Regions from separate parts of the Homo sapiens genome. Here all the other regions are reported to be linked to region 1. Evidence: microRNA targets listed by miRTarBase, many of them from high-throughput screens and not tested one by one. Region 1 holds a microRNA gene; each other region holds the end of a gene's coding sequence. Distances are between the middles of the regions.

What was found. Region 1 holds the annotated microRNA hsa-miR-548b-3p (CAAGAACCUCAGUUGCUUUUGU, at 3,351-3,372, shown strand). A microRNA usually pairs through its seed, bases 2 to 8, with sites in the 3' UTR of a target mRNA and lowers its output. Matches are read on the target gene's strand: a 7mer-m8 pairs with bases 2 to 8, a 7mer-A1 pairs with bases 2 to 7 and ends in A, and an 8mer does both.
Region 2: miRTarBase lists MMS22L as a target of hsa-miR-548b-3p. Seed matches in the 3' UTR shown: 7mer-m8 at 5,927-5,933.
Region 3: the mRNA of CCDC149 is a reported target of hsa-miR-548b-3p. Seed matches in the 3' UTR shown: 7mer-m8 at 3,288-3,294 and 7mer-m8 at 2,186-2,192.
Region 4: the mRNA of HHLA2 is a reported target of hsa-miR-548b-3p. Seed matches in the 3' UTR shown: 7mer-m8 at 3,345-3,351.
Region 5: the mRNA of MYO16 is a reported target of hsa-miR-548b-3p. Seed matches in the 3' UTR shown: 7mer-m8 at 390-396.

The regions. Positions count from the first base shown.
Region 1 is chr6:119,066,013-119,072,433 of GRCh38, reverse strand. MIR548B (microRNA 548b) reads left to right here and starts at 3,291; the gene lies at 3,291-3,387. The region is part of intron 1 of FAM184A (family with sequence similarity 184 member A); the gene reads left to right.
Region 2 is chr6:97,143,187-97,149,607 of GRCh38, reverse strand. It overlaps MMS22L (MMS22 like, DNA repair protein), which reads left to right. Exons shown (of 25, transcript NM_001350599.2): 25 at 2,721-6,421. The coding sequence ends at 2,802. Among named protein-coding and RNA genes, the nearest start is that of MMS22L, 140 kb to the left of the region's middle.
Region 3 is chr4:24,803,968-24,810,388 of GRCh38, forward strand. CCDC149 (coiled-coil domain containing 149) reads right to left here. Exons shown (of 13, transcript NM_001395273.1): 13 at 1-4,852. The coding sequence ends at 4,422. Among named protein-coding and RNA genes, the nearest start is that of SOD3, 12 kb to the left of the region's middle. RefSeq lists an enhancer at 4,776-5,356.
Region 4 is chr3:108,374,745-108,381,165 of GRCh38, forward strand. It overlaps HHLA2 (HHLA2 member of B7 family), which reads left to right. Exons shown (of 10, transcript NM_001282556.2): 8 at 1,006-1,056; 9 at 1,749-1,813; 10 at 2,514-3,541. The coding sequence ends at 2,534. MYH15 (myosin heavy chain 15) reads right to left here. Exons shown (of 41, transcript NM_014981.3): 41 at 5,624-6,421. Among named protein-coding and RNA genes, the nearest start is that of HHLA2, 81 kb to the left of the region's middle. RefSeq lists an enhancer at 2,045-3,244.
Region 5 is chr13:109,206,634-109,213,054 of GRCh38, forward strand. MYO16 (myosin XVI) reads left to right here. Exons shown (of 35, transcript NM_001198950.3): 35 at 1-1,372. The coding sequence ends at 203. Among named protein-coding and RNA genes, the nearest start is that of MYO16-AS1, 43 kb to the left of the region's middle. RefSeq lists an enhancer at 4,484-5,683.

The DNA.
Region 1 (6,421 bases):
GCCTCATAAAACATAGCAATTGGCTGTGTTTCACCTTAGCACTAGTACATGCCAAATGCAGCATCTCTTTTTCTTTGTTACATTGTAGCTTTGCCATGCTGTTATGCAGTGGCTTGGATGTAATCTTTTAGTCATAGTGGAGTGGTTTGGATTAATTTGTTGCATTTTACTAATGGACACAAAAGCATAGTATCCTGTTAATTAACTGGTCACAAACTTATAAAGGGACTTCCTTTAGAGTTAAAGATTTAGAGTTAAAGGTTAAAGGTTTAGGTTGGGTGCCCTGGCTCATGCCTACAGTCCCAGCACTTTGGGAGGCCAAGGCAGGCAGATCACTTGAGGCCATGAGTTCGAGACCAGCCTGGCCAACATGGTGAAATCCCGTCTTTACAAAAAATACAAAAAATTAGCTGGTGTGGTGGTGGGTGCTTGTAATCCCAGCTACTTGGGAGGCTGAGGCACAAGAATTGCTTGAACCCAGGAGGCGGAGGTTGCAGTTGAGATCATGCCACTGCACTCCAGCCTGAGTGACAGAGCAAGACTCTATCTCAAAAAAAAAAAAAAAAAAAAAAAGATTAAAGGTTTAGACTTTAGACTGTGACCAGGCTGACCCTCTCATTTTATAAGTATAGAAGGTGTGAGGGCTCGGTGCCATTTGAAGATTACTCAACCTGGACTCACATTCAGCTCTCTAGATTGGTCTAGGTGGGGGTGGCCACACTAACAGGCCTCTTTTCCCTGTGTCTACCTTCTTTCTAATATTACTTATTCAATAAGAGACCACAGAGTTATTGTTTTTCCATGTTGGAACCATGTTTTACTTACCATCTGAATCAAATTTTTGATAAGGGTGAAACCAACCTGTGTCTCCTCTGTATACTTACTGTGGAACTTTCTGGGTTTATAGGTTGTATATTTTGTATACTATGACTTGGTCACTTTGTAACAGAGGTTTATTGTGTGTGCTGTCAGCTAAATGTCATAATATTTTCATGTTTTTATTAACAGGTTTAGTCATTCCAAACTGAAACGTATTTAAAATAACATTAACTTAGAGACTGCCATACTTGGTGTGAAAATTACTACTGTGGTTATTTTAAATGTCTTTCTTTTGACTGCTTTCATTCTTGATTAGATTGTTGCTTAGACCCCATTCCTAAACACAGTAAATTGCAAGTTTTCCAGTTTTTATTGATTCACTATCTGTTTAGTTTATGAAAATCCTTTGCTAGCCTCTAATCACCAGTCTTAAAAAGTGTTATGAAAGATAAAGATTCAGCAGGAATATGTGACTGGAGTAATTTCTTCATTTTAATTAATAAGTTCCCTATACTTTAACTTTTAAAATTGTGATATTTTTGAAAATTTTGTATCTCTTAAATGTGAGATGGGAATGAAGAATAACCTGGGTCTATAAAGCTAATTAGTTTGTGGAAGAAAATAGGAGGTAATGGGGGCCAGGGGAGTATTGATAAAATACTGTTATTTTGCCCTTTCAATTGATCTTGTGAGTTTTTTTTTTTAAAGAAAATCTTCATAAGCATTCAAATAAATTTGAATATTATGCCATGAAATGGAAAGGATGTGAATGACGGGAGTTCGTAACGCCATTCTTTTTATTCACCACAGGAAGTTTCTATCCTGCAGCCCACTTCAGAATGTAAAGGACATTAAGTAAATGTCAGAATTGGTGCCCCATGTCCCTTTTTTGGAGATAGACACCTATGGGAGACAATCACTAACTGATTTCAGGATTAGATAAATAGATAAATAAAAACAGCAACATTGAGATCCCATCTCTACTTTTTAAAAAATAAAAATAAAGAAAAACAATGTTATAAATGGTAGTTTGATATGGGGGAATCATATCAAACTATTAGGTTTATATTTTATATGTCAAGTGTGGTCTAAACCATAGGGGGCTTTTTAGATTGACCTAGAGAGTTAATGGTCCTTCAAAATATTGGAAAATATTCTTTGGCTGCCAATCAATTAATATATAAAAATGAATTTTTGAAACAATGATATTTGCAAGTTGGAGATTGCCAGTTGTATTTTGGTATGCTTAACCTTTAAGACCAAGCAAAAATTTTAGAAAATCTCTGATTCTTAACTTTTAACTAAATTACATCAGTGAACAACTGTCATTTGTAACCTTATTTCACCAAGGATTACATCTTTCTTTTCTACCAAAACTTCAACGAGAATGTATAAAAAGTAGTGAAGTTGAATATATGAATTTTTTATCCTGTATCTTACACTATTATCTTGAGATGCAAATGGAAGCTGAAACTATCAAAGGATCTATAGTACATGGAAAAACAAGACTTAGTGATTAACAATCATATGTGGGATTTGGATATTTTAGACTTGGCTACCATGTGCTACCTCATTTAATTGTAAAGGAGATAGTACTTTGATTTTTTTAATTGCTAATTCTGTATTTCCTTATTTACATGTACCATCTCTATACCAAAGTTTGAGGAAGTTGGAAAGTAAAACATTTCATCTATAAAGTGCATTACTAATATTTAAATTATCAATAAAATTGATAATTTTAGTAAAATAACAGGGTAAATTCCTATTTATGCGAAATTATTAGAGAATGAATTATTTTAGTTAACTAGAAGTTTCCATAGGGGTTAATAAGTTTTCACTTTCTCATATAGTATACTTACATTTACATCATACCATTCATATATCACACTGGAGTTCTTCATCAACTCCAGATCATTGTTAGGATCATCAGTGCATATATAGGAAATTGGACCAAACTTATGCTAGTCCTATTAGGCCAAATCCATGAATGCTGATATTTAATTTCTGAATAAATTGTTACTTGCCCTTTTACTTGTCATGTCTTTTTTACTTATAAAATGAAGTGTCGCATTTGGATATTTACAAATTCTAGACATTGGCCTTGGTGGTTGAGCAGATTTTGTTTATTCTGGCGAATGTGTGTCTATGTGTTCACAGGTATTTGCATTTTTCATCCTGTAGCTCCTTAAGCACAGTTTTAAAGATTCTCATTTCTTTCAGAAAACATTTTATGACCAAAATACTAAATAGTATTCTTTGCCTACCTTTAGATGTTTCGCCTAGTGAATTTTGGGAGGAAGGTGTGTGTGTGTGTGTGTTTAATGGTCTACTCAGAGTAATAAAATATACTTAGATATGACCGAAGTAGAATATATAGGTCTATGTGTTTGGTAAACTTGTCGAATGCCTACTTTATGAAAGACATTGTGCTTGGTACTATTAATTATTTAATACTATTTATTATTCCATTTCAGACTATATATTTAGGTTGGCGCAAAAGTAATTGTGGTTTTGGCCTTTATTTTCAATGGCAAGAACCTCAGTTGCTTTTGTGCCAACCTAATACTTCACATATATTTTCCAACAGACTTGAGAAAATGTAACTGGAATATATTAATCATATATTTTAATTACAACATATTTATCAGTACATTAATTCTGACAAATTTTAGATGTGTAATCATGGGCAAATTTTTCTATTTGGTTTCGTTCTTTTTGGGTAGAACTTATGTACGTGCTTTTCTTGGATAAAGAAACTATACTGATACCTTCTAAATTCTCTAATAAGGTTTTGATGACTCAGTTGACATATTCTGGTTACAAATCTCTAATATATTTGGCTGGGGGGTAGAGCGGGTAAAAGGAAATTTCAGTCTTGGAAACCCCGGAGTTAATGTGTTTGTGTTAGGTTTAGGTTTCTCATGGGCAGCCGGAGAGCCACATTGTTCCCAGAGCCAAACGGCCCAGTGAGGCAGCAGTGCCCATCATATGGGTCAGAGGTGTGGTTCAGTAAGTTAGGCATTCCCTTATTTGAAGTTCACCTTCACCACTTCCTAGTGTTTGACTTTTAATACATATTTTAACCACTCAGGGCTGTCTTGTCCTCATCTGTAAAATGAGAATGACAAAGCGTACTTCATAGAATTATTATAAAGATTAAAGGAGATAATTGATGCAGGAGAGAGAAGTCAGTTTGTACCCACTATCCCCTCCCCACTTGGTTAAGCCTCTGCTGACATACTCTTTAACAATAAAGTAGGTTTTTAGGCCAGGCGCAGTGGCTCACACCTGTAATCCCAGCACTTTGGGAGGCCGAGGTGGGTGGATCACACTTGAAGTCAGGAGTTCGAGACCAGCCTGGCCAACATGGTGAAACCCTGTCTCTACTAAAAATACAAAAATTAGCCGAGTGTGGTGGTGCATGCCTGTAATCCCAGCTACTCGGGAGGCTGAGGCAGGAGAATTGCTTGAACCCAGGAGGCGGAGGTTGTGGTGAGCTGAGATTGCGCCACTGCACTCCAGCCTGGGTGCACAGTGAAACTCCATCTCAAAAAAAAAAAAAAAAAACCCACACACAAAAAAACAATAAAGTAGGTTTTTATATGTCTTTATTTTGTTTGTTTGTTTATTTATTTATTTTTTAGAGATAGAGTCTGGCTATGTTGCCCAGGCTGGAGTGCAGGGGTGCCATCATAGCTTGCTGCAACCTTACACTCCTGGGGTCAAGTGATCCTTCCACCTCAGTTTTCTGAGTAGCTGGGATTATAGGTGCAAGCCACTGTGCCCAGCTATATTTTCTTTTCTGATGGATATATAGTCTACATTGTTGGGGACCATAGCTGTCAAGTAAAGGTTGAGCAGCAAATAAAATATAGTCAGTTCTCATTATTCGTGGTCGTTGTATTGCATGGTCTAGGGAGAATACAGAGCTAGGTTCCTGACACCCTCTGGTCACAACATTTTCACCAACTGATCAATGTATAACCTTGTTTTATGTGTGTTTCTGTTTAAAACACCTTTTAAAATATATATTGATCCATTAACAGTGAAGCCACAGCCAAATATCACTATAACTCATGCCTGAACAAAGGTTATTTAGCACACCTTGAGTGTTAGATTTTGGGGTTACATGTAAATTTTAGCAAGTAAGATAATTTACAAATAGGGAGTCCATGAGTAAAGAAGATCAACTGTATCTAAAAATGGAAGCACAACTTTGCATCTGCTGTTTTCTTAGCTCCTGCTGTTTATCAGCTATTGTTAGGGGCCTAAGTGACTATGACTCTTATTACCACCCTAAACACCCTCACATGAGTGTGACTTTGACTCTCATTATCTCAGTAAACACCCTCAGATGAAAGGGGTGGAAAGGATAATGGAGGCTGAAATACTAATCTTTTGTGTGACTTGCCAGTCACCTACAGGCCACCCTACAATCATAAGCATGGGATAAATTCTTTCCTTGTATGTTAATTGTAATCTTCAAGATCTAAACTTGAATCTATCACATTGCCCTACATCAGAAAAAGGAAAAAAAATATGTAAATGATTCCAGGGCATGGAGCAAAACCTTTAAAAAATAATTTATTTTAGTTTAAATAAAATCTTTCATAGTCATCATTTGCCTAAAACATGTTTGCAGTTACTTCTTTTCTAGCATAAATTGTCACTGTGGGAGTTGGTTTTGTTAAAAGTCTTTGTCTATGTACCTAAAGATAACTTGAAATCTTATACAGTTCGAGGCTATAGCACATTTGGTTGGATGTTTCTGAATTAACCTTATGCAACATACAGAAAACTTCTGCAATTCAATTCATATCTGTCCACACTTTCTTGTTTCAACCCCCTAGTAATTATCAGAAAAAGGAACCCAGTTAAGAGTACTACTGTGATCATGAGGGAGTTGGCAAAGATAACTGTCCTGGAATAAATAACAATTTGATCTGGAGCCAAGCTCATTACTATAATATTGCTCTATTTAGGACCATGTATATCTTTAACCTTCAATCCTGAGTCACTGTTGCTATTTGCTCTCTCTATTCTTACTTCTGGATTGTGGAGCATTGCTAGAGAAAATTATGGAACTGGACTGTAGCAGCACAATGGCACCCTCAAAGATGTTCACGTTCTAATACCTAGAACCTGTGAAGATGTTATCTGACATTAGCATTAGCAGATGTGGTTAGGTTAGGGATCTTGAGATGGGGAGATTATCCTTGACTATTTGGATGGGCAACTGTAATCACAAGGATCCTTCTAAGTGAAAGAGGGAGCCAAGGAACACAGGTGGCCTCTGGAAGCTGGAAAAGGCAGGGAAACAAGTTCTCCCCAAGAGCCTTCAGATTTTGGCCCAGTAAAACTATTTTCAGACTTCTAACCTCAGGAATTCTAAGGTTAGTACATTTGTGTTGCTTTAAGACACTTGGTGTTAAATTGTTACCACAACATGGCTCTCTACAAAGTCATGTAGGCCAATTTTGTCTGATCACTCAGTATTGCTGCACTATATGATGTTGTTCTCTGAATTGTTCACAGCTGTGGACCGTGTGTCCTCTCTTCCTTCCCTGTACACATGGGATGGATAAGCTGCTATTTTACTGAA
Region 2 (6,421 bases), 22 Mb from region 1:
AAGCTGTATATTTCAGCAGTGCTGCTGTTGCTCAAAACGCATTTCAGTGTTCCTCATTGGGAAGTGGACTTCATAGCCTTGGATGTCTTGTTTTTTAATAAAATTTATGGTGGCAAATCATAACCGTTTGAGGGATGCTTGATTTATTTAGTCAACTGTATCATGTGTATCTAGTGAATAAGTGACCCAATTAGACAGTATAGGTTTTGGTCAAAAATAGGAAATAAGACTTTTTTTTAATAGGCTCATAACTCAACTGAAAATAGTGCTGGACTATTTAGAGTCTCAACATTGTGGGAATAAGCCTATATTTATTTCTTAAAGAAATTGTTTTAGAGTAGTCAGTACTCACAGTGGAATTTTTGTGTCCTAAAGGTTATTAAAGAATCAAAATACAGTTATGTGTTGCTTAACGACAGGGATAAGTTCTAAGAAATGTGTAGTTAGGCGATTTCATCATTTGTGAACATCAAATAGAGTATATTTACACAAACCTAGATGGAATAGCCTATACCACACACCTAGGCAATGTGGTGTGGCCTATTGCTCCTAGGCTACAAACTTGTATAACATGTTACTGTAGTGAATACTATAGACAGTTGTAACTTATGGTAAGTATTTGTGTATCTAAATATATGAAAACATAGTACAGTAATTATATGGTAGCAAAGATTTTAAAATGGTATACCTATATAGGGCACTTACCGTGAGTGCAGCTTGCAGGACTAGTAGTTGCTCTGGGTGGGTCGGCGAGTGAGTGGTGATAAATGTGAAGGCCTAGGCCATTACTGTACACTATTGTAGTAGACATTATAAACATAATACATTTAGAGTACATTAGTTATTTCTAAAATTTTTAGTTTTTCAATAATACATTAACCTTAGCTTACTCTTTTTTACCTTTTAAACTTTTTCTTTTTTTAACTTTTTTACTCTTGTAAAAAAGCTTAACACACACATTGTATAGCTGTACAAAAATATTTTCTTTCTTTATATTCTTGAATAAGCTTTTTTCTATTTTTAAATTATTTTTTATTTTTAAACTATTTTGTAAAAAATGAAGACACACACGCATTAGCCTGAGCCTACACAGGGTCAGGATGATCAACATCACTGTCTTCCACCTCTACATCTTACTTCACTGGAAGGTCTTCAGGGTCAGTAACGCACATGGAGCTGTCGTCTCCTGCAATAAGGAAGCCTTCTTCTGGAATACCTCCTGAAGGACCTGCCTGAGTCTGTTTTACAGTTAACTTTTATTTTTATAAGTATAAAGAGGAGTACACTCTAAAATAACAATAAAAAGTAAAGTATAGTAAATACATAAACCAGTAACATTCTTTCTTATTATCAAGTATTATATACTATGTATAGTTGTGTGTGCTAGACTTTTATATGACTGACAGTACAATAGGTTTGTTTATACCTGCATCACCACAAACAACACGAGTAAGGCATTACACTAAGACATTACAATGGCTACAACATCACCAGGCATTAGGAATTTTTCAGTACCATTATAATCTTAATGGGATCCATCATTGACCAAAATGCAGCCCATCATTGACCAAAATGTTTTTAATGTAGTGCATGACTATAATCATATGCATGTGTGTCTGTTTATCTGTACAAATACACACTCTAATGAATATGCATATTCCAATTTTTAGACAAAAATTTTTTATTAAACAATATATGAGATCTTTCTTGAAGACATGACTATGTTGATTATAGCTTTAGCTAACTAATGGAATCCATTTTTTCAATGCCATTTCATATAAAAGGCAGGGGGTGCGGACTGGAGAGATCATCCTTGTAAAGCTTTTGTATGCCAGAATGGAACATCTCCTTTCTTCTGCATGGTGACTTGGCTAGCCTCCTGTGGTTTTCTAAGGAGAGAAGATTGAATCACTTCAAATTGTAGCTTGAAGAAATGGTGTTTATTGTCATGTCACAAAACAAGCTCATGCACAGACATGTCTCACATCTGGCTTCTCTGAGCAGTCTTCAAATTTGAGTGAAAAAACTAGAGAGGCTGTGTGTGAACCACCCTAATGCAGTATGTTGTTAAAACAAATATTCTGGCCTACTACCTTGTGTGGTTATGCAGGCCCATAAGAAGTTTGGTTCTAAAGATTCTGAACAGAACAGGTATTTAGACTAGTGAGATAACTACTAGGCACAATAAATCATCTAAAACACCTTCCAAATACAGGGAAGTACTAGAGAATGTAGGAGGAGAAACAATATTTTATTTTCAAACTTTGTTACTTATAAGAAGTTAAAAGAAGAAAATGGGATATATACTGAAATTGCTACACAGGTCTATTTTATGGTTACAGAATTTTTGTTTTAATACTTACGCTTGTGATACAAGTCTTCCCATTGTAATCATACCATCATTGTCCTTAAATAATATTCCATGAATGCATTTTATTACCCGTGAGCATTATAATATTTCGGAAGGTTAATGAACTTTTACATGTCATTTTTAGCACACATTTTATATATAAAAATCATACTTTAATACATCTTAACATCTAGGTTTACTCACAATAGATATAAAGCATTACTTTTTAAGAAGTGTTGTGCTAAGCCTGCTGGATGGATGGCTGAATAGATGGATGGATGGATGATGGGCAGACTTAATTTGTAAATACTGAAATGAAAAATAATGAAAATGTTAATATATTTGCTTTCTTTTCTTTTTTCTTAAACAGGGAAGCCTATAGCAAACTTTTGTCTCACCTTGGACAGATGGGACAAGATGAGATGCAGAGACTGGAAAATGATAATACTTAATATATTTTGTGATTCATCCTGTCTATTAATTATCAGTATCTAAAGCCACATTGTTCCACTCTAATTCCTACTTTTAATTAATTGTATAATGTTCTGTTTAAAATAATTTCTAGGATTTTTTTTCCTTTTATATCTGTAAGTAAAAAATGTATAAATAAGGAACTGAAGGTTAATTAGCAACTGTGTAATAGGATCCTTGGAACTTTTTACAAAACTGCATTCTACCTTGATGAAATTTTAGTTAAACTAAATTAAAGAAACATTTTCTGAGAGTGTTTTCTGTGTGTGAGTATTAAGCAGATACTTCATCCATAGACTTTTTGTTGTAGTATGACTTCCTGCCTCCCTGCCTTGTGACTGATTTGTCATGTTTATTTTTTATTTTTACAATAATAGTTATGTTTTAAAATGATACTTTTTCAAAGTACCTGGCTACCCTATACTGTGTTTTTGGTGGGGGAAAGGTGTTGGGAAATGTGACTGTGTATTTGTTTTTCTTTTTTATATGTGTGAGGCAAGTTAACAAAGAAAACCCTTACAAAGCACACTTAACTGTGTTAGGAATGAGACTGAATCTGGCTAAAGGATTATACAGCTGATATCCAAAAAGAAGTGTAAACATGCCAACAGGGTTTATATTTAGGTTCCAAGAGTTGCCAAATTTTTTTTTTATTCATCCTTTCTTTTGGAGTTGTCATTAAAAAAAAAATCATATCAGGAGGAGGAAATAAAGGAGACTTTAAGAGGAGAGTAAATAAAAATATTCTAGAAAAGTAACAATAGTAGTGGTCTGAGAAGTCAGCTGATCCATCTTCTTGCTCTTTAGCCAGAGCTTCTTATAACTTAGCATTTTATCCAAGAAACCTGTTTAGTTTCCTTTAACAACATTGTTTCTCAACTTTTGAACTCTTAACTCATCCAGATTGTTTTACCAGTTGGAGCTTGTCCTTGACTCCTTTTCCTATTGAGCATTATTTGGTTGAAAGAGCTCCAGTCCTAGTTTTGGGAACCCACCTGGGTCTCAAACTCAGCTTTGCTTTATGATCTTGAGCTAGTTACGTAACCTTTCTCAGTCTAGTTTCTTCATGGAGAAGAAAAGAAGAATCCCTTTACTATTTGACAGTGTTGTTGTGAGAATCAATGGGATAATGTACGTGAAAATATTTGGTGGCCCAAATTCTGTTGGGAAATGTACAGACACGATTAGTTTATTACTCGTGCACAATTAAGGCAAAGAACACCTCTCAATTTTATCTTTCTCTAATGATATGTCCCAGATGAATGATCCCACTTTCCAATGTTTTCTTACATCATGTTTTCTAACTTTGAAGTACTTTGTTTCCTTCTTGGGATTATAGTCTTTATCATGGTTCTACTCTTCCTTCAAGAAAACATTTCAACCCTTCTCTGGCTCAAGGAGTATCTTTAAAAATGAAATACTTTGCAATCAGTATTCTGTAGTTAATAGCGTTCTCTTAATTATAATCTGTGAAATCCAAAGGAGTGTCTGTTATTTTCATAACATATAAATGGTCCTTCTCTCAAATCAGCTTCATCAAAGGGAATAAATGAAAGCTTAAGGCTGTTTAATAGACTTCATAACACTGAATTTCTTTTCATCATGATAGTGACTTACTAAACAAATAATGTATGGCTTGGAAAGTTCCAGCAGTCACTAAGGAGTTTTATCTATTTAAGGTGATGCCTTTAAAGAGGTTATTTATGTGTATATGTGTTTTTGTGTGTGTGTGTGTGTGTGTGTGTGTGTGTGTGTGTGTGTGGGTTTTTTTTTTCCAAAGGAGATTGATAAAGATACCTTTGAGAATCTTGCTCCTTAGAGTATGAAAACGTTTAAAGGATAGGAAAAGCTGCTACTGAATCATGCTTTAGGACATATATCTATAGATACTAAGAATAACTAAAATTTGTACTTAAGAATGGTAACAACAAAGTGTGTAACAATATGTGTGTGTATTATATGTTTTGTATTTATGTATAAGTAACTTTTTTTAAAGCTTTTTTTTAAATTGAAAAAAGAAGAAAATTTATGGCTCAGTTCCTTTTTTTTAAAATCTTCACTGATCCTTCACTTATTACTACAATCTTGCCCTCTTTCATTCCCAGACTTGGAGTCCCTTATACCTGCTTCTTTAATAGCCACTTTCCCTAAATACCCTGTAATTTCTGAGGCTGCTGCTTCTACCAGTGTAATACAAGCCATTGTCTTTTGGTCAAATCTGAGTTTGTTCTCCTTTCTCATGTTCTTTGTCCTCTCTGTGACAATTGTATTTTCTTTTATCTTCCCATCATTTCCACAATGGTACTGCTCCTTCCTACATATACAGTTGACCCTTGAGCAACACAAGTTTGAACTGTGCAGGTCCACTTATATGTGGATCTAAAATACAGTATTTGTGGGATGCAAAATCTGAGTATATGGAGGACCAACTTTTTGTAGAGGCAGGTTCCTCAGGGTTAACTGCAGGACTTGAGTAAGTGCAGATTATGGTATGCACAGGGGATCCTGGAACCAGTCCCCAGACCAAAAATGACCACTGTATCTTGAGAGCACCTTCATGGTCTTCTTTCCTGTCCCCAGTCGTAAGATACGACCCTTCATCTGCTTTGTCTCAACATTCTGTTAGTGGTGAACTGATAACTCCAGCTTTTCTCTCTCTTTTTTTTTTTTTTTTTTTTTTTGTTGTTGTTGTTGTTGTTGTTTTGAGGCAGAGTCTTGCTCTGTCGCCCAGGCTGGAGTGCAGTGGCACGATCTCGGCTCACTGCAAGCTCTGCCTCCCGGGTTCACGCCATTCTCCTGCCTCAGCCTCCCAAGTAGCTGGGACTACAGGTGCCCGCCACCACGCCCGGCTAATTTTTTTTGTATTTTTAGTAGAGACGGGGTTTCACCATGTTGGGCTCGATCTCCTGACCTCATGATCCGCCCGCCTCGGCCTCCCAAAGTGCTGGGATTACAGGCGTGATGAGCCACCTAGTGCTAATTCATCTCTAAACCTCTGTAGTTGGAGTCTCCTGAAATCTCAGACTACCTCCTGCTTTCATTTTCTACCCAGGGAATACACTATTGTCCTAAGTTATTTAGCCTTGAAATGTCAGAGGCATTTTAGGTTCTTCATGTTTCTCCCACTTTCAGTTGATTACCATTACAGGATCTTAGGCTTCTTTTTATCTTTTTGCAGTGCCTTGCATCCACTGGTTGTTTGTTTTTTCTGTTGGGCACTACTTATTTCCTTACCTCTGGTTTCTTCTCCTACAGCTTATGTTCTGAAATGTGTATTCCTAAAATACTGTTTTCCTCTTGTTACTTTTCTGCTCGAGGACTTCCAGTAACTTACCATTGTTTATAAGGTGATGTTCAAACCCTTCAGTCTGGAGACTTTCTGCCACCTATCTGACTGTACCTTTATCTTCAAGCTTATCTCTTTCCAAACAAGAGGCTCATTTAGCAGCTTTCTCTGATTGCCATGTTCATCCTACACTCAGCCTCATTCAGTTTACAGCATGGAAACTGTATAGGACCTCTTTCCTATAGAAATTGAAGACACTTAAATAGGAAGAAAATTAAAATATACATTTGGATACATGAGTATTCCAGTCAAAT
Region 3 (6,421 bases), not on the chromosome of region 1:
TTCACTACGGAGCTCCCAATTGCATCTCTCTGATCTACAAATTTTTCTCTCTTCAGGAAGACACCTGGAAAGAAGGGACTACATTAAAGGAGTGTGTTGGGGGCAATGCTTTGGCCTTTTGACATCCTATCTAGTCTGAAGGGACCCTCACTATTGCTAAGGAGGAGGAGTGTTTTAAATGGAGGCTTCAGAATGAAAGCAGAGGAAGAAGGTACTCTCTTTTTCAAAAAGAAGGAGGGTACAGGCCGGGCGCAGTGGCTCACGCCTGCAATCCCAGCACTTTGGGAGGCCGAGGAAGGCAGATCACGAGGTTGGGAGTTTGAGACCAGCCTGGTCAACATAGTGAAACCCCGTCTCTACTAAAAATACAAAAATTAGCCAGGCATGGTGGTGCATGCCTGTAGTCCCAGTTACTCGGGAGGCTGAGGCAGGAGAATCGCTTGAACTCGGGAAGTGGAGGTTGCAGTGAGCCGAGATCATGCCACTGCACTCCACCCTGGGTGACAGAGTGAGACTCTCAAAAAAAAAAAAAAAAAAAAAAAGAAGTAGGGTACCAAGTCATCCACAAGGCTGTGGGAAAACAACAAAGCCAAGAGGGCACCCCATTTTTTTGGAGTGAAAACCAACAGGGGCAAAGGCATGCTGTAATTTTAAAGAGACAGAGAAGATCACCTCAGTGAGTAAGCAGCTGGTCTTTGTCATTCCTTAAAGAGGAGACAGAACTTTTCATGCCATATCGTGAACCGGGGTGCAAAGGCTCCCGGTAGGAATAACACATCAAAAAATTTACTCCAACATGTGAATAATTGATAGCAGAGCCCTTTTCTAGCACTTTGCATCGTGATGGTGGTGCATGTTTGGGAGGGAGGTCACAGAAGAGGAGCAACGATGGGCAAACTAATTTAGCTTGCTTAAGATTGCCAAAAGCTGGGAGGGTCCAGCCGGCATTGAGCTGAGGCCATCAGGAGCCTCCCAGCTAGAGAGGCTTTGGGAATAGCTGTGGGAGCAAGAGAAGGAACGGGGAGGGGAGAAGAAGGTGGGCAGAGAAGGTGTGGAAGGAGGAAGAGCAAGAGTGAGGGATGAGAAATGCCTGGTTTACAAAAACCAATCCACTTCTACAGGCCTTAATCAAAAGAAAGACAAACGCTCATGTAAAAATCCACACCTAGAGGCTCTCAGGCACAGAGCGATCACAGGAGAGGCAGAGTGTGCAAACAAGCTTTCATTAAGAGACCTGTCAGCTCTGTTTCATTTCTCCAGGCTGCTCTGCATTCTGCTGGCAATCCAGCCGGAAAAATAATGGAAGGACAAACACGTCTGAACAGGCAAACAAAGGTGGGAACATTCCACCTACAGAACAGGACAGATCAGAAAGATGCCAGGGAGGGGGGATGAGATGGCTTTTTTCTGAGCAAACAACCATAGCCCCTCCCCTTAACTCCAAACTCATCGGAAACATGATTTTCTGGCTTTTTATGCAGCAACAAAAAGACATGGGGTTCAGAGACAGCACCATTGGTTGTCTATTCCCAACTCTCTTACACATCCCAAGATATGATTCTGTTTTGGTGTTCAGCCTTTTAGAGTCTGAATGTCTAGCGACAGGGCCCTTCTTCAGTTCTTAAGGGTGAATCTTGGTGAACCTAAACAGATCATGGTAATACCATCTCCCTTGCTAAGAAATGGTTAAGACATTGCCATGTGACATCATCATGTGACAAGGTCTCATGCGACCACAAGCCCCAGGTGATCATTCTGACCAATAAAATGTGATAGGAACTGGGTTTCTCGCTCTTGAAACACACACACACACGTATGTGGGAAGAAACTTCCTTCTGCCTTTGAACAGGTGTTATCTGGAGCTGTTGCAGCCACCTCGTTATCATGAGAAAGCAGCTGACACAGCAGGAAGAGCAGGAAGATGGAAACCTAGAACCTTGACAACTTTCTTGAATGTATAGCCCTGGAATGCCTTACTTTCGAAGTTCCTGTTATACAACATAATTCATTTCCCTACCGCTTAAGTTTCTGTTAAGTGTGGCTTGAAGCTGAGAGGACCATGACTGATGCAGGGTTATCTAGTGAAGTAGGGGACAGAATGCCACAACCTTAAACTTTGATCCTAAAAAAGACAAAAGACAGCTGTAAGTAATTGCAGAAAGCCCCTTTAATGTCTGTGGAACAGAAGAACCATGTTGGATGGGGAAAGCAGGGGCAGGACACACGTGTCGCGTATCTATGGGGTGTTATCAGGGTTATATCTGTGACAGGATCAACTAACTTACTGGCTCTCATTTCACCTGATAACATAAGACCCTCCCCGCTGACTACACACAGTTTAGGTTATCACTCCTTATGACTCCTGCTCCCTGCCCTGCACCCTAGATTCTCTGGGACTCACTGCAGTTTTCCTGACTCTGATGGAATGTGCTGGAGTCTATTACGAGCCCTGCTTTTCAGAAGGTGCTCAACAGGCCCTGAAGATGTGCATCTGGCCGATGGTGGGTCAAAACCAGAGTTCTGCAGGCTGAGATTTTTCCTTTTATTATTATTAAACTTGGCTGTGTTTTCCTTCGGTGGCTCTGGCATCCTATGCAGTAGTGCTGGACATTTGCAGGCAGTTAAGGCCCAGTACAGCAGGAAGAATGATTTCTGTGACTGCTGGTCTGTGCAAGCCCTCCAGCTGCGGGAGCAACCTCCCTTGAGGAGAAGTTGTGGGGGTGGGCCTGGTGGGGAGGGCGATAGGCTGGGACAGAAGGAAGGATGGAATACTGGACCTGGTGGCCAGGGGTCAATGGGATGTCCTTCTCACCAGAAGCAACAGAACGCCGACTCCAGCATGCTCCCATTTCAACTAAAGTAGTGGGAGACCCACCCAATGTGCATCAAAGGCCTGGGTCCTTCTGGGCTGCACTTTGAGGAGGAGCAGCATAGTAAGGGATGGGGCGCCCATTCTGCTAGCAGAGTGATTCCTGGAGATGCAATCTGGGAGGGATGTATCCACGTGGCTGACCCCTCGTGTCCAGATGTCACATCTTAGTGTCATGAGCCTGGTATAAACATTGAATTTTTAGGATGCATTTTCACTGAGAGGCTACCACTCTGGGAGCCTCTCTTTTTCCTGCAAGGAGCGCCTCTCAAAGGAGTGATTCTGGTTCTCAGAGGCATTCTGAGCTTTGGGATCTAGTCTCAGGCTTTCCAGGGAAGGAAAAAGCTATGGCTGGATGACTTTTAGTTTTCTGCAGTGCCGGATGCCAACTAGAAAAGCTCATTTTTATCTGAAAGGAAAGAACCAGCTAGAATTGAGCATGCCCTCCTTTCCCATCCCTGTATCATGTCCTTGGTTCCACATCCCCCCTTGCCATGCTGTTGTGAAGTTGTTTTGTTTTCCTCTCTCTTTCCCATAAAAGGTCATGAGCTCTGTTTCTGTCTTTAAGATTCCCGTACTTGGTGGCACAAATGAGGCAGCCTCAACATTCTGTTGAAGGAGTGAAGGGTTTGGAAGTTCCAGGTGGTGCAGGAAACTAGACTGGCTCCCAGCAGGTAGATCTTTCCCAAACCTGAAATGGCCATACAATCCTGTATGTGAGACAGGCTGAATGCAGAGAATGAGCATTTCCAGGTGGTAGCTCTCATCTCATCTCACAAAAAAAACCAGACCACCACTGGGAGTCCTGTTCCCCGGCTTTTATGCTCACCCCTCCCAGTCACTTCAGATCAGTTAATTCTCCAGATTTACAAGCTAGAAAACTCCAGCTCTGGCACTCAGCACACAGGCCTCAACCGGGGCTGTGGATTTCAACCCAGAAGCCCAAACTTCTCAGCCGGCTTAAGGCCCCTTCCAACTGCCAGTCTGTACCACGACAGCAGTGCTGTGGGCACAATGCCAAGCACACCCATGCCAGGCAGTCCTCCTGGGCCCTGACTTGATGGGGTGCAGCCATGGGTCCTCTGGACACGTTTTGCTCAATTATACCTTCCTCTCCAGCTGCCTAACCTTGACCAAGATGGGGACCTGATTAAAAACCCCATCAGTTTCTAGCTCTTCCCATAATTTTGATTGACAACATTAAATGCTAATACAAAAACATCTTATCTCTGATAAAACAAAAGCTGACAGAAAGACGGATGCTGAAAACCAGCCATATGGTGGACACGATTCCTGGGCCTGGCCCTGTTCACAGTAGCACTCTCTGGCAGAAAAGAGATGACACTGAGAAGCTTGAGGACCTACATTTAATAAATCAAACTGTACTGGCATCATCAGAATATTCACAGTTTGCAACAGGATCAGTGCGTTTTCTCACTTGCAGACTCGGAGGTATTTCAGGAGAAGGCGACGTGAGCGCACCATTCCGATGCTTCATTCTTGACCCTCTCTGGGGCTTTCAATGTGTCATTGTGTCAGATCCCTCTCCCCTTCAGGTTTTCACGGTGCTCCTCATGCCTCCGCCCTCTGGGATCCCTTTGCCGTCTTCCGGTGTGGAAGCTTTGGCTGCTGGCCGGCTGGCCTCGAAGGAGTCCAGGTGAGATTTAGGGAGCTCCCCCTGGATGGCCAGGCCTGGCGGGGCTGGCCCCGTCTCACTCCTCTGACCTTCTATGGGACTCTCTCTTCTGACCTCTTCCAGTTCTGCAGCTGCCTGTTCCTTTGTCAGTTTAATTATTTCCCTCCCAAGGCTGTTTACTTCTTCCTCAGAAGGTAACTGGGGTAATGAAGGATGAAAGAGCTTGCATTGGTTCCCGCGGCTCTGATTTGCTGGGGAGTTGACAGCGGGCCTCCCAGCATCCTCAGGCGCTGTCAACGCCTCAGCAGCGGCACAACTTTCATCTTCTTCTTGCTTCTGAGCCTCCCCTGAAAACAGAACGAGGACAACATTAAACCTCTGGCAGCAAATCAGCCCTCACCGCCCCTCTTCTGCCAACCTCCTGCCCAGCCTACCAGCACAGGGCCTCTGAAAAAGGAGCAAGACTTTTTTGGCTCCCTGTGCAGGGCAATGGAGCCAAAGGGGAACACAGGACCCAGGTGAAACCAGCGAGCATGCATTCTAGTGATTCCTGCATTATTAACAGAGGGCAAGGGAGCACTTGGGCCATGTCATAATCCATCCTTTCCAGGCACCTGGTTAGCTTCTGTTCCATTCTCTAATGGCCGCTCCTTGTGCCCATTAAATATTTAAATTGAGGACAAAGGTTTTGTTGGTTCTGCAGCTGAGAGCCAGGGCTTGTTAGTAATGAAAAAAGGTTCCGGCTGCATTGAGGGTGGGAAGAAGAAGGATAGTTCGGGAAGGATTTAGTGCCACCCCTTCTCCACGATTCTCCATCAGCATCTCATTCCTTAATGCGGACACCTAGTGTTCCTCAATATCAAATAAATTATATGCAAATACACCTTCAAGCTCCCTCCCCTGTTGAGTTGTTGTCCCTAAACCCCTTCTCTATAGGATGGAAATTCTAGCACTGCAACAGGAAGGACATGGGAGAGAAGGGGGAGCCCTTAAAGTGCTGACATCCAGCCCTCATTTCCCTACTCACTTGCTTTGTGATCAGGATAGGACTCTCTGATGCCCCTTCTGGACCTAACCAGCAATGCTTGCTCTGCATGAGTGGGGAGCAGCATGGCGGAGCCAGCTCTTAGTACCCGGGCATGTGCATTCAATAACAGACACTGAGTTTCCCCAGAAGCCAATCTCTTCCCAGCCCTCAGGCTAAACAGTGAAGAAAGGTATGACAGAGCCACAGTGGGACTGGGTTTAGCCTGGACACATGTCCTGGACCAGGAATGAGGGGCCCCCAGGAACACTTTCTGGTACCCCTGAATGGAACCACAGCAGAACCCTGCTGTAGTGGGGCTTGCTATCATATATGCGCAGGTATGTTTTCAGGCTGTAAGTTGGAACTTGGGGAGCTGGAGAACTGCAGCAGGTTAGAAAGGATGTTGAGCATCATCTGGCCATGCCATTTTCCTGCTTAAAACCTTCTGCTGGAGCCTTGTCACTTTCAGGATAAATTTCCTTTCGCTTAGGCCCTTACAAGGTCCTGCTGATGTGCTCCTGTTTCACTCTGCAGCCTCATTTCACACAGTTTCATCACACGTGTCCTCCCAGCCATGTCACGCACCCATTAGGTCTCCACATGCACTGATCAGTTTCTCCCCTCTGTTAAATAAATCCTCCCAGCTAACGCTTATTGGGTGCTTTTCCACACTAGGCACTGCACTAAACATTTGACGTGTTTATCTCATTCTAAATTTAAGTCCATGAGAACAGGAGCCTCATCTGACTCATCCAGTGTCTGACACATTCTAAGCATTCAAAAATATTTAAAAAATAGTTCCCTTTCTTTTATAAATGGAAGTATAATATACACAAAGAGAAGTGCACAGAACTTATGTATCCAGCTCAATGAATTTTCACAAAGTGAA
Region 4 (6,421 bases), not on the chromosome of region 1:
GCCATCAGAGAAATGCAAATCAAAACCACAATGAGATACCATCTCACACCAGTTAGAATGGCGATCATTAAAAAGTCAGGAAACAACAGGTGCTGGAGAGGATGTGGAGAAATAGGAACACTTTTACACTGTTGGTGGGACTGTAAACTAGTTCAACCATTGTGGAAGTCAGTGTGGCGATTCCTCGGGGATCTAGAACTAGAAATACCATTTGACCCAGCCATCCCATTACTGGGTATATACCCAAAGGACTATAAATCATGCTGCTATAAAGACACATGCACACGTATGTTTATTGCGGCACTATTCACAATAGCAAAGACTTGGAACCAACCCAAATGTCCAACAATGATAGACTGGATTAAGAAAATGTGACACATATACACCATGGAATACTATGCAGCCATAAAAAATGATGAGTTCATGTCCTTTGTAGGGACATGGATGAAATTGGAAATCATCATTCTCAGTAACTATCGCAAGGACAAAAAACCAAACACGGCATATTCTCACTCATAGGTGGGAATTGAACAATGAGAACACATGGACACAGGAAGGGGAACATCACACACCAGGGACTCTTGTGGGGTAGGGGAGGGGGGAGGGATAGCATTAGGAGATATACCTAATGCTAAATGATGATTTAATGGGTGCAGCACACCAACATGGCACATGTATACATATGTAACAAACCTGTATGTTGTGCACATGTACCCTAAAACTTAAAAGAATAATAATAATACAAAATAAATAAAAATAAATTGTACATCAAGTAAAAAAATTAAAAAACTAGAGAAGCAAGAGCGAACAAATTCAAAAGCTAGCAGAAGACAAAAAATAACTAAGATCAGAGCAGAAATGAAGGAGATAGACACACGAAAAACCCTTCAAAGAACCAGAGAGTGACTTTCAATTGAAGGACAGAGCCATACCAAGGTGACCTTACAGGGAAACAGCTGGGAGAGTAAATACCTAATTTCACTCTTCCCTGTCTCTGATCTACAGCCCAGCTAGAAGCCAGGAGGAGCAGACACCCTGCTGATGGAGCCCAACAAGGTCAGCCTCCCATGTCTGAGAGAAGAATGGATTCTGGTTCTGGAGGAGCAGTCAAAAGATATCGGCAAAAACTCTGTCACAGTATTGGCCACTTTAAAAAATAGATATATTCCATACTTCTGCAGTGAGATGGGCTGAAAATATATTTGAAGCTGTTATATGAAAAGCCACAAAACCTTTCCTAGCTCCAGCTCCCTGGTTGTAGTTTCATGACTGTGGTTCATATGTTTTATTTTTAAATTCCCTTTTCTATTACTGTTTTAAAATGTACTTTGTCTAAGATATGTATTAAAGGGCCATATTTTAGGAAAGTCCATAAGGAGACCTTCTTTGAGAAATGACATATCCCTTTTTCTTTAACCATCACTCTCATCCCCTCTTTGGCTATGACATTTCCATTGTTAGCAGTTGGTAGGAACCAGGCCAAGGATCACAAGGAGCCAGGAATTGCTGAGCTGACTGAACTGCCTTTATTCCCCGGCTTTGGAGCACCTGGATCAACCATACACATTTACTGCTGCTTCTGATGATGTGTTTTTACACTGAATGCATTTTTCATGTTGTTTGTTAAAGATATGCAGGGAGAGTAACTCAGATGATTCTAATAACATGATTATATTGAGATAGGACTAAGGGAGAATTTTGGTGTTTGCAAAGAAATTATTTTTAAGTTCTCTTTTTTTTTCCTGTAGAAAGATGTTGTGTCCCTCCTGGTGAGCGCTGTCCCAGTGCACCCGATAATGGCGAAGAAAATGTGGTAAGGCATTATTTCCTTTATCAAACCATATACAGTATAAAAATGCTTCTTTAAAAGGGTAATTGAAGTTCTGACTGATTCACATATCATCAAGCAAGACTTTTATACAGAAAAAAACAGCAGCAGGGGTTGCAGGATAATATAGCACGAAAAATATAATTAGGCTTTTCCCAATGTCTATAATTAAACAGGCTCTACTTGCTTAAATACATGGTTGTTCTTCTTGTCTCCTATTGTTATTTGTAGAGAAGATCTCCAATGGCATTGTGCATATGAGGGTGAGCCAATGTACTTATTCTTATGATAGAAGCATGAAACATGGGATTGTATACAAGTGGAAAGAAACACAACTATAATTCACTTGCAAATTATAGTTTGATTGTATACTTCCTTTTTACTGCATTCCTTTTAGTATTTATGTGTTCCATTAATCAGAGTATAAATAAGGGCCAGGAGTGTGGTAAACTTGTTTTTTCCACTGTTAAAAACCATGAAACAGCTAGTAGGGAGATTAAAATTAACTGATAAGACTCAGACTTATTTTATAATGGTCTCATGGATCTTTAATTTCAGATGCAAGCAATAGACTAAAGCTTTTTGCCGCCCACCCCAAAACACTACTATCAATAAATATTTAAGATATAAATGGTTATTCTGACTTGAACAACAGACATTTAGAGTCTATTTTTCTTGCTTCTAGCCTCTTTCAGGAAAAGTATAGGAAATGAGAGAAGACTGTGACAACTCATGACCTGCATCCTTAATATCCAGTGACTTCATCTCCCCTTTCTTCACCACAATTCCAGGCAATGGCCTGTCGGAGCAGACAATTCTACCACTGCAAAGAGTTGTAACCATTTTCTGGTATCACATTTATTTTTCAAGACATACTTTTCAAGACATCATTCACTGACCCACTACCTGCATTGAGTATAAATGCCTGGATGTTAAGGATTCCAATTTAACTTTGAAAAGAACTGTCTCATTCATTTACATTTCTGTTACAGTCAGCCCAGGAGGTTACAGTGAGCTCTCCACTAAGAATCTGGAAGAAATGCATCACTAGGGGTTGATTCCCAATCTGATCAACTGATAATGGGTGAGAGAGCAGGTAAGAGCCAAAGTCACCTTAGTGGAAAGGTTAAAAACCAGAGCCTGGAAACCAAGATGATTGATTTGACAAGGTATTTTAGTCTAGTTTTATATGAACGGTTGTATCAGGGTAACCAACTCGATTTGGGATGAATCTTAGGGCACCAAAGACTAAGACAGTATCTTTAAGATTGCTAGGGAAAAGGGCCCTATGTGTCAGGCCTCTGAGCCCAAGCCAAGCATCGCATCCCCTGTGATTTGCACGTATACATCCAGATGGCCTAAAGTAACTGAAGATCCACAAAAGAAGTAAAAATAGCCTTAACTGATGACATTCCACCATTGTGATTTGTTCCTGCCCCACCCTAACTGATCAATGTACTTTGTAATCTCCCCCACCCTTAAGAAGGTACTTTGTAATCTTCCCCACCCTTAAGAAGGTTCTTTGTAATTCTCCCCACCCTTGAGAATGTACTTTGTGAGATCCACCCTGCCCACAAAACATTGCTCTTAACTTCACCGCCTAACCCAAAACCTATAAGAACTAATGATAATCCATCACCCTTCGCTGACTCTCTTTTCGGACTCAGCCCACCTGCACCCAGGTGAAATAAACAGCTTTATTGCTCACACAAAGCCTGTTTGGTGGTCTCTTCACATGGATGCACATGAAACTATGAACATAAGAATCTCTGAAGTTAGGTTACACTTGACCACACAAGGCTTGCATAGTTGAGTGACTAGCCATGAAGATAATTTAAACAACTCTTCTGGCTCAATTGGCATATTGCTAATCAATCTTCTAATAAATTTAGATTTTCATATAAATTTTTAAGCAAGAGAAGGGAGAACTCAGCTAACCTAATCTGTTTCCCTTAATTTTAGTCATCAATTTACATAAAAGAAACAGTCTAATGTTAATGCTTGTGAACTTGTCACTATAACCAGGCTTTTGTGTGACTTAGTAGATCAAGGTTTCAACTCTATAAGAGAAAGCAAATTCTGAATTGTGGTGTAACTGCCACCTGGTCCAATTTTATCTGACCTCAGTTTCACAATCCTCTCCTTGTATGTAGTTAACTCTGTTTTTGCTACAATGTTGTGATGGGTTATCACAAATAGCAAAGTATTAAGAATTCCAGTCAGAATGTTAATTATTAAAAAGTCAAACAATAGATGCTGGCAAGGCTGTGGAGAAACAGGAATGCCTTTACACTCTTGGTGGGAATGTAAATTAGTTCAACCATTGTGGAAGACTGTGTGGCGATTCCTCAAGGATCTAGAAACAGAAATACCATTTGAACCAGCAATCCCATTACTGGGTATATACCCAAAGGATTATAAATCATTCTACTATAAAGACACATGCACATGTATGTTTATTGCACTATTTACAATAGTAAAGACATGGAACCAACCCGAATACCCATCAATGGTAGACTGGATAAAGAAAATGTGATACAAACACCATGGAATACTATGCAGCCATGAAAAGGAATGAGATCATGTCCTTTGCATGGACATGGATGAAGCTGGAAGCCATCATTATCAGCAAACTAACACAGGAACAGAAAACCAAACCACATGTTCTCACTCATAAGTGGGAGCTGAACAAGGAGAACACATGGACACAGGGAGGGGAACAACACACACCAGGGCCTGTTGCAGGGTGGGGGGCGGGGGAGGGAACCTAGAGGACGGTTCAATAGGTACAGCAAACCACCATGGCACACATATACCTATGTAACAAACCTGCATGTTCTGCACGTGTATCCCAGAACTTACTTAAAGTAAATTTTTTTTAAAAAAATAAATATAACTTAGATATCTTTTAAAAAAATTCCATTGTGAAGAAAAACTCCATTGAGATAATATTTGTCTACCATCTCTGCTTCCCCCTAGCCTTGGTTCCTTTTTAAAAATTGTGTCCTAGTGAGAGAACATGATACTTAATAACAAAACTGGATGCATCCCCAAGCTGAAGTTTTACTTTACTGAGTATGTGCCTGGGGTGTGGAGAAACAATAGCATCCTAACTTCAGGATTGGTAATATGACAACAGCAAATTTCTAAGAAAAGGTTTGGGATATAGAGATGTTTCCTGAATATAAACATTGGCTTATTAAAGGATAATTCCAAACATTTTTTACTGAAGTTTTAAAAAATTACTATTCCAGGAAAAAAAAAAAACCCTAGAAAAGTTCCATGTTAAATGTTTCATGTTGTTTTCTCATTGCGTTAAGACCGATGGTAAGAAGGAGCGACTGCTTTGGATACAGCCCGACACACATACCTGCTAGTTCACTCTGTGGCTGTGCATCCCTCTCCGCCAACCACAAAACTCAAATTTGGTTCACCTTGCTCAAAATGGTACCCTGATTTTTCAAGAGCATCCACTTTGATCTGTCTGAGCCAACCCTGACAATTGCAGTCCTCTTGCCACTAGACTGGTTCAGCATAAGCAGATAAAGAAATCTGCTCACTAGGGTATGAGGAAAATTATTCCAGAGGTCTGTTTCTGGGAAAGTGTTTCTCCATTTTAAGAAGAGACAGGTTATCGTATGGGGAGAAAATGCTCAGGACTGCTGAAGTCCTCTTACGGCGACAAGAGATTCCGACAAGAATGAACCTGGGTCCTCTGATACCACTGAGTCCCTGAATTAATCGTCAAGCTACCCATATGAGTCAGGGTTGGATCAGGGAGGCAGAATCAGAGAATGACAGAATAAAGATTTATTATAGAGCTTCAGCCTTACACAATTGTGGGTGCTGGTGGAGAAGTCTAGGCCAGGCTGTTCCCTCTGCATCTGGTTCTGGGCCTGAAGTCACTGTAGGTCGACTGTGAATGCAGCAAGGATGAAGGGAAGTCCATAAGAACAAACAGAACCCATGTCTGTCTCACGGCCTCCACTGCAATGCTGTGTGTGATCTCAGGAAAAGCTGATGCTGGTTGCCATGGAGCTGCACACACACCTGGCCAGTACTTTGCAAAGCTGAAGGAGGAGGCTGGCAGGAGCTGGAAGAGCTCTGGGTCCAGGGAGCTGTCTCTGGTCTCTTCTAGCTCCCCTTTTTGGCCTGGAGTCATATTTTCAAGCTGTCACCATGCTTGGGTCTGTACACTGACCTTATGAGTATAAAATAGCTGCTGATCAAATTAATGCAAATTTCTTTATGACCTACTCCAATCCAGAACCATGAGAGAGAGGAATTCCGGGACATGTTCCTCCAGCTGAGCCAAATCGGTACTGCACAAATCCAGCATATTACCTGTCACTGAATGTCTCGTGTGGGGTTACCTCCATGTTTAAAGCATGTACCAGCATATAGCCTACATGTGTGTTGATTAGGAGAGTTTTGCCTACATGTTCAAATTGCCTAACTATAGCTATATTTATATCACAATGCTGAGGAGATCTTATGACTTCCATTCTACCACTGCTGGCTCACAATATACATTCATAGATTTAGGGGTGAATCAAGCCAAAGTTGCCTAACTTTAGTAAAAACCATTCACCA
Region 5 (6,421 bases), not on the chromosome of region 1:
AGAATGAAAGTGTGGCCCTGCAGGAACTCTTGGACTGGAGGAGAAAGCTCTGTGAGGAAGGACAAGACTGGCAGCAGATCCTGCACCACGCTGAGCCCAGGGTGCCTCCCCCACCACCTTGCAAGAAGCCCAGCCTTCTGAAGAAGCCGGAAGGGGCCTCCTGCAACAGGCTGCCGTCTGAGCTCTGGGACACCACCATTTGATGTGGCCTGAACTGCAGACTTACAAAATAGAACTGCCTACTGATTCCGGGCTGCAACAACAGAAGGCTGCCTTCTGACATGCGCTGGGGCTTCTCTCCACGCATTTAGACAAAAAAAGCACAGGACACAGACACTAAATATATGAGATCCCGTGTGTGTGTGTGTGTGTTTGTGTGTGTGTGTGTGGGTTCTTTCTTATCCATCTCGTGGTGATACACTCTGATTTTCAAGCTCCTCATTTACGGCTCTGTGCTACCCCTAGGTAGCAAGAGAGAGGCTGGGAAAAGTGTGGACGTGGCCAGAGCGAGAGAGTAGCGGAGGAAAGGAGCAATCCATGCACACTCTGTACAGTTGTTTTTCTACGGTTCAACAGTCTGTTTATTGTACTTCCAATGGTTTTATTATAATACAGTATACGGGACATATATTTTATTTCTTTGTAGCTACTTGTGTTTTATTGGTATTATAAACCTGATAATTATTTACATGTTTATTACTGTAATTTTATAAATTTATGCAATTGGTGGTGCTTCCTTTCTTCAAAATACAGATTTTAAAAAATCATTTCTAGATTATTTTTTTCCTCCACAGTCCTTTTTTTTCACCTAACGCACCTAAATCTTGAAACTACATTGTTGTTTTAGCTTCGCCAGTGTCACCCCTTGCAAAACTATGAATTGAGCCCCATGTTTTAGGTGTTACTCATGGATGAGGAGGCTGTTCTTTCCTATGCCCTGTATTTCTGGATAAGTGGATTGTGTACCCTTTAGTTAAATTTCACCTCCCGACTTCAGCATAGATCACAGGAAATCACATGGCACACGGTTAAACACGTATGGCTTCAAATCCATAGCCGGTGGTGTAAAATGATCATATTCATTCAAAGGCCTACACAGTACAAATGAGCACGCTGCCATGTACTGGTTTGAGCAGTAGGGGCTGCATCGCACAGCGCTCGTCCCCCGGGACTTACACTGCATGATTCCCTCACTGTATATCCTCAACCCTCCCATAATGCAAGGCCTTGTTCATTGATGTGCTTTCGTCGGCTGTCGGAAAGTTCTGAGCAGTGGCTCCAGACCACCTTGTCTTGCTACTTGGAACTTTTTATTCATACCAGCCTTTGAAAAGTTACTGTGCCAATAAAGAGGTACAACTGTGTTCTTCTATTGTTTTTGTTGTTGTTATTATTGTCTCCCATGAACTCTTGTGTTTTCTGGTCAGAGAAGTAGGGACAATGAAGTGATCTCACCCAGACTCCCTTAATGTGGGGGCCATAGCATTGTGCAAACTTTAGACACCAATGATGTTTTACAATACAGGCTTTATGATGATTCCAGTATGGTGAGACCAACAGGTCTGGAAGGGAGTCCCATTGAAAAGACGGCTTGTCATCCTCAGAAAGCTCAGAGAAGAGGACACATAGTGCCATCAGAGGGCCACACCAAGGTCAGCCAGGAAGCAGAGGGCATAGGGGGAGCCTTTTATTTTAGTTTGCACAACACTAGGAAAGGACAAGGCAGGATCAGCAGGCATAGAACTGACTGCTTTGAGAAATATCGGTGGGTTCTGGGTTAGCGGAGCCATCCCTACCTGTCTGGGACCTAGCCTTGAGGTGATTAGGGTGGGTGGAGAGTGGCCTGGAATGACAGCCCTATGAGAGCCCACAGGGGAGACTTACTAGGGATGTGGGCTCTAGATTGGTTGACTTGTCTTTGAAAATCATGTTCTGGGGTGAGTCATCATTATCTTTTGGACGTGGCTAACCCTGGAAATGGCAATTCCTCCAAGGTCAGCAGGGCCCCAGATGCCAAAGCATCAGAACACAGCAAATAAAAGCACATGGTCAATATGTAGTTACTGCAATGTTACTGCAGCCACCCAGCAACCACAAGGAAGTGTTCTGCCTGACCTCCAGCCTGACGACAGCCGAGTCCCATTCCCTGCCTATTTCTCTCATGTTTTTCCCTTCTGACTTCCACCCCCGCGAAGAAGCAATGGAAGAAGCCAACTTTCCCTTGATACATGGCTTCTTGGGCCATGCTATGGACATAATAGGCACTTAATGATCTTAGTTGAATTAAAACTTTGAATTGCATTCTCCTCCCCACAATATATTTAGGCCAGGGTGAAAAATAAACTGTTTAAGCATTGCACATTGCAAGAACTTGCTTCAAATGTTCACTGAGCATTGTGCTGACTGTGCGAGGTGCTCAGCCCATGTGATTCCTAAACTGGCTATTTTGGTTAGGGCTGCTGTAACAAATGGCCATCAGCAGGGTGGCTTCAACAACAAGCATGTATTCCCACAGTTCTGAAGCCTAGGAAGTCCAAGATGAAAATTTCCACAGATCCCGTGTCTGGTGAGGGCCTGCTTCCTGGATTGCAGATGGCCATCTTCTCATCGTACCCTCGCATGTTCAGAGAAGAAGGGGAGGAAGCACCCTCTCCGGTGTCTCTTCTTATAAGGGCATGAATTCCATCACGAGGCCTCTGCCCTCATGACCTAATCATATCCCAAAGACCCTGCCTCCAAATTTCATCATACTGGGGATCAGCGTTTCAGCATAGGAATTCTGGGAGGACATAGTTCAGTCCACAGCACTGACATATGCCTACAAGGTAATTTTTATCATTTTTGTATTGATACTGAAATTGAAGCTTATAGCTTTAAGCAGCCCATCAGATATAAACTCTCATCTTTATGATTCCAATGTCCATGCCATTTTAATTTGATATACAGAAATTGCCAACTTACTTTATGAAAAGACACCTGAAATGATGATGCATGACCATTGTAGGGAGACCTTACGTGAAGTAAGGAAGTCACAAGCCACATGTGTGTCCAAACCACACAACTCCCTATTAACCCAAGTTGAAGCACTGGGGCCTGTGTCATCACTAGGTAAACATTACAGTCACCTATTAGGGTACTATGAGCATCATGAACATGAAATATTTAACCTCTCAGTAGTCCCTCTGCCTCATTTAAGGTTTGTTGACCTTCAGACACTAGAAGCCAACCCGCTTGTAGATAGATTGTTTAAACACAATCTTCTAAATCAATGTGGACAGACCCTTTAAACACAATCTCCTTAATCAGTAAGTAAGCCCTTTTGTGTTTAGTTGTTTGGATTCTCCGCTGTGGAAAGAGATTGCAGGTGTGTGTTAATCACTACATTAGGACCATCTGATTGTGCCTGTTCTAATTACATGATATGAAAATCAGCAGAGGCTCAAAAGCATCAATAGCCATGACAGTAGTAACAGTATTAACAGTCACAATAATACGAAGTCCAAGCCTTCGTGTGGATTAAAGTTACTCTCAGAATGGCTCTCTAATGATTATACTTTGTCAAGAAAATAAAGAGGTAATATTCTGGGTAATAAAGTACTGAATATTATTCTACATAAGCAAGATTTCAGCTTTTATGTGTGTTTGCAAAATATTTAATGGTGGTATTTTAATTGCCATCAGACCATAAGGTATGAATTAGGATGTATTATTGAGGCTTCAAACTTATGTTCAGCAATATAATTGGTATGAATTATTACCCTATGTTCAAACACTGCCCACTTCTATTGCTTTTTTAAAAAAATTATTTATGAGAGCTCTCTAAAAACCACTATCCAAATGTTTACAATGAGTTAAAATGATTTAAAATGTATTTCCCAGGATGGAAAAATATATCATCACTATTCTTAAATAGTGGTATCTAATTTAGTTAGAATTATGCTTATATAAATCTGCTCAATAAAAGCAACAACCAATTAAAATCTAAGATTTATGAATGGACTTCACAAATAAACATTACACAACTTGGACAAAAGGTATATTATGAATTCCAGAGTCTGAAAGGATGGATGAACTTTTGTCAAAATTCTATTGCTGTCAGTTTCCAGCCAGACATCAAACTCAACTCGTATCACAATAAAGGGCATGAGGGTATTAAATAATAACGTTCTTCAATAGGACACGTTTCACCCATTGACCGTCACTTGGAACTGCTCATTTTTTCCTAATCATTTAAATGTAGTTTTTGATGAGAAATGAATGGAATTGATTTCTATTTCTCATCAGGAAAGTTTCAATAAAAAAGATTCTTAAATTAGCTGGAGGAAAAAAAAACTCTGTTCCAAGTAAACATTTAGTGTAATTTTATTACATTTTTCAAATTGTTTTTAGCTGCACATAAAAATCCATATAATGAAGACGAAAGCAATTAAATTTCTATTTACTGTGGAATAGTGAGTTCTGTGTGATACTCATGGGATCCCAAAACAGTAGCACTGCTTTCAAAAAACTAAAAATATCATCTCCACCCCCATTTTTCTTCCTTTACATCTTATTCATAAGCAATGACTTCATAAAACAAATTCTACTACCAACGATGTTCTGTGCTGCAAGGCGTCCACGTGAGTTACAAAGATACCCATTAGATAGCAAAAGGTTGTAGCATGCTGAGTTACAGACTGGGAAGAATAATCTTTGTAGTTTTTTTCACTTTACCTAAATACTCCAAACCCCTGCGATGTTCTATTATTGTGGTTTCAGTAAGTTTCTCTAAAATCCAGGATGCTTTATAAACTTTAAAGATGTTATTTTTCAAAGGGTATGTCTTAATAGGTGCCTATAATTCATCTCTATCACCTGTTCTAATTTCTCAGATCATTTTCCAGGCTTTTTGAAATGTGCTTATACTTTAAATATCATTCTTGTGTGCTTCAACATCAGCATAATATAATCTGAATTTTATGTAGTTTACCGGATCATTATAATGGCAGAAGAAAATGTTGATGTCCTCTCATAAGAAAATAATTAAAGGTGAATAAATCTATGCATTCATTTCTATTGTTGTTTTATAATAGGAATGTATCAAATGTGTCTTTTCTTTCCTTTGAATTAGTCATGGGACAGACACCCTGCATATCTGCCAGCTTGCCTTTCCCTGTAGCCCCAGGGAACAAGCGCTGCTTCAAAGGAAGGCCAGCGAGCCTGCTCAGATGACATTTTCCTGATGTCACCATTTGGCTTCTGAAGTCTAAAGAAAATGAAAGAGAATGAAACTATTGATAAATTCCAAGGGAGGGGGGGATCAAAGCTCTAAAGAAAAATGGAATAAAACCAAATTCAATTTGAGTTTTTGATCTTTTAAGATTTCAACAAACAAAAGGGTTGGAGGGCCATGATCTAAAACAATTAATTGAAAAATGTATACATTCTGTCATATTTGAAGAGAGGTTTTCTTTCCGAACTTAATGTTTATGATAAATTGCATTAGACTTTTGTGTGGCAATAAGAAGAGCATAGCCACCCGACCACTCCCTATTATTCTTCATCAATATTATTGTTGAATAAGATAATTACATTTAATATCACAAAGCTAGTGTTTTGGACACTTTTTAATACAAATAGGTCATCTATATACACCTGTTTTGTAGGGGAACTAGTTCTTCAGACAATTATAACTGCATTTTGTGGTTGGAGAACTATTGTCATTCCCTTGGGCTTAGAAACTGTTACATAAAAGGATGACCGTCTATATTTTTAAAAGCAAGAAAATTTTCCCAGCAAAAGAGAAAAAGAGGCCACAAGAAATCCACCGAGTCATGGCCTCGGATGCTCAGGGTGTCAATGGTAAGGAATTAGGAAATCAGAGGTGACACTGTCTCATTACTGACGTGTTTTTATCCCGTACCAAGAACTCTTATTTTTCAGCCTCAGAAGGAAAGGCAAACCCTACAAAGACATAATACTTGCTGCCCACAGTCTTCAGAAGCCAAAAGTTTGCCCACAAAGACTCAATGAGAAAAATTCATTAAAGGTACAAGTCACTCTACCTCCCAGTTTTGCTCCTGACAGTTGGTAGGTGGCACTTGTGGGCAGTTTTCTTATTTGTCTTGACTTCCCACCCCTATCTATGTTTGTTACTCAAGTTGGTTGTTTTAACAACCACAGGCTCTAGTGGTTTCACACAATAAAGCTGTCCTTCTATTTTAGTATTCTCTCTTAAGTCACAGTTGACACAGTCATTCAAAGATCAAGGGTCCGTCCGTCTCATGGCTCAGCCTCCTCTAGGCCTTTGCGGGTGCTCCTTGCTTAGCCAGTAGATGAGGATTAGAGCACAGGGAACAGACCCAGGAGGAATTCATGGCCTGCCTAAAAATGGCTTAACGTGCCTCCACATTCCATGGGCCAGAACTCAGTCATGGAGCTG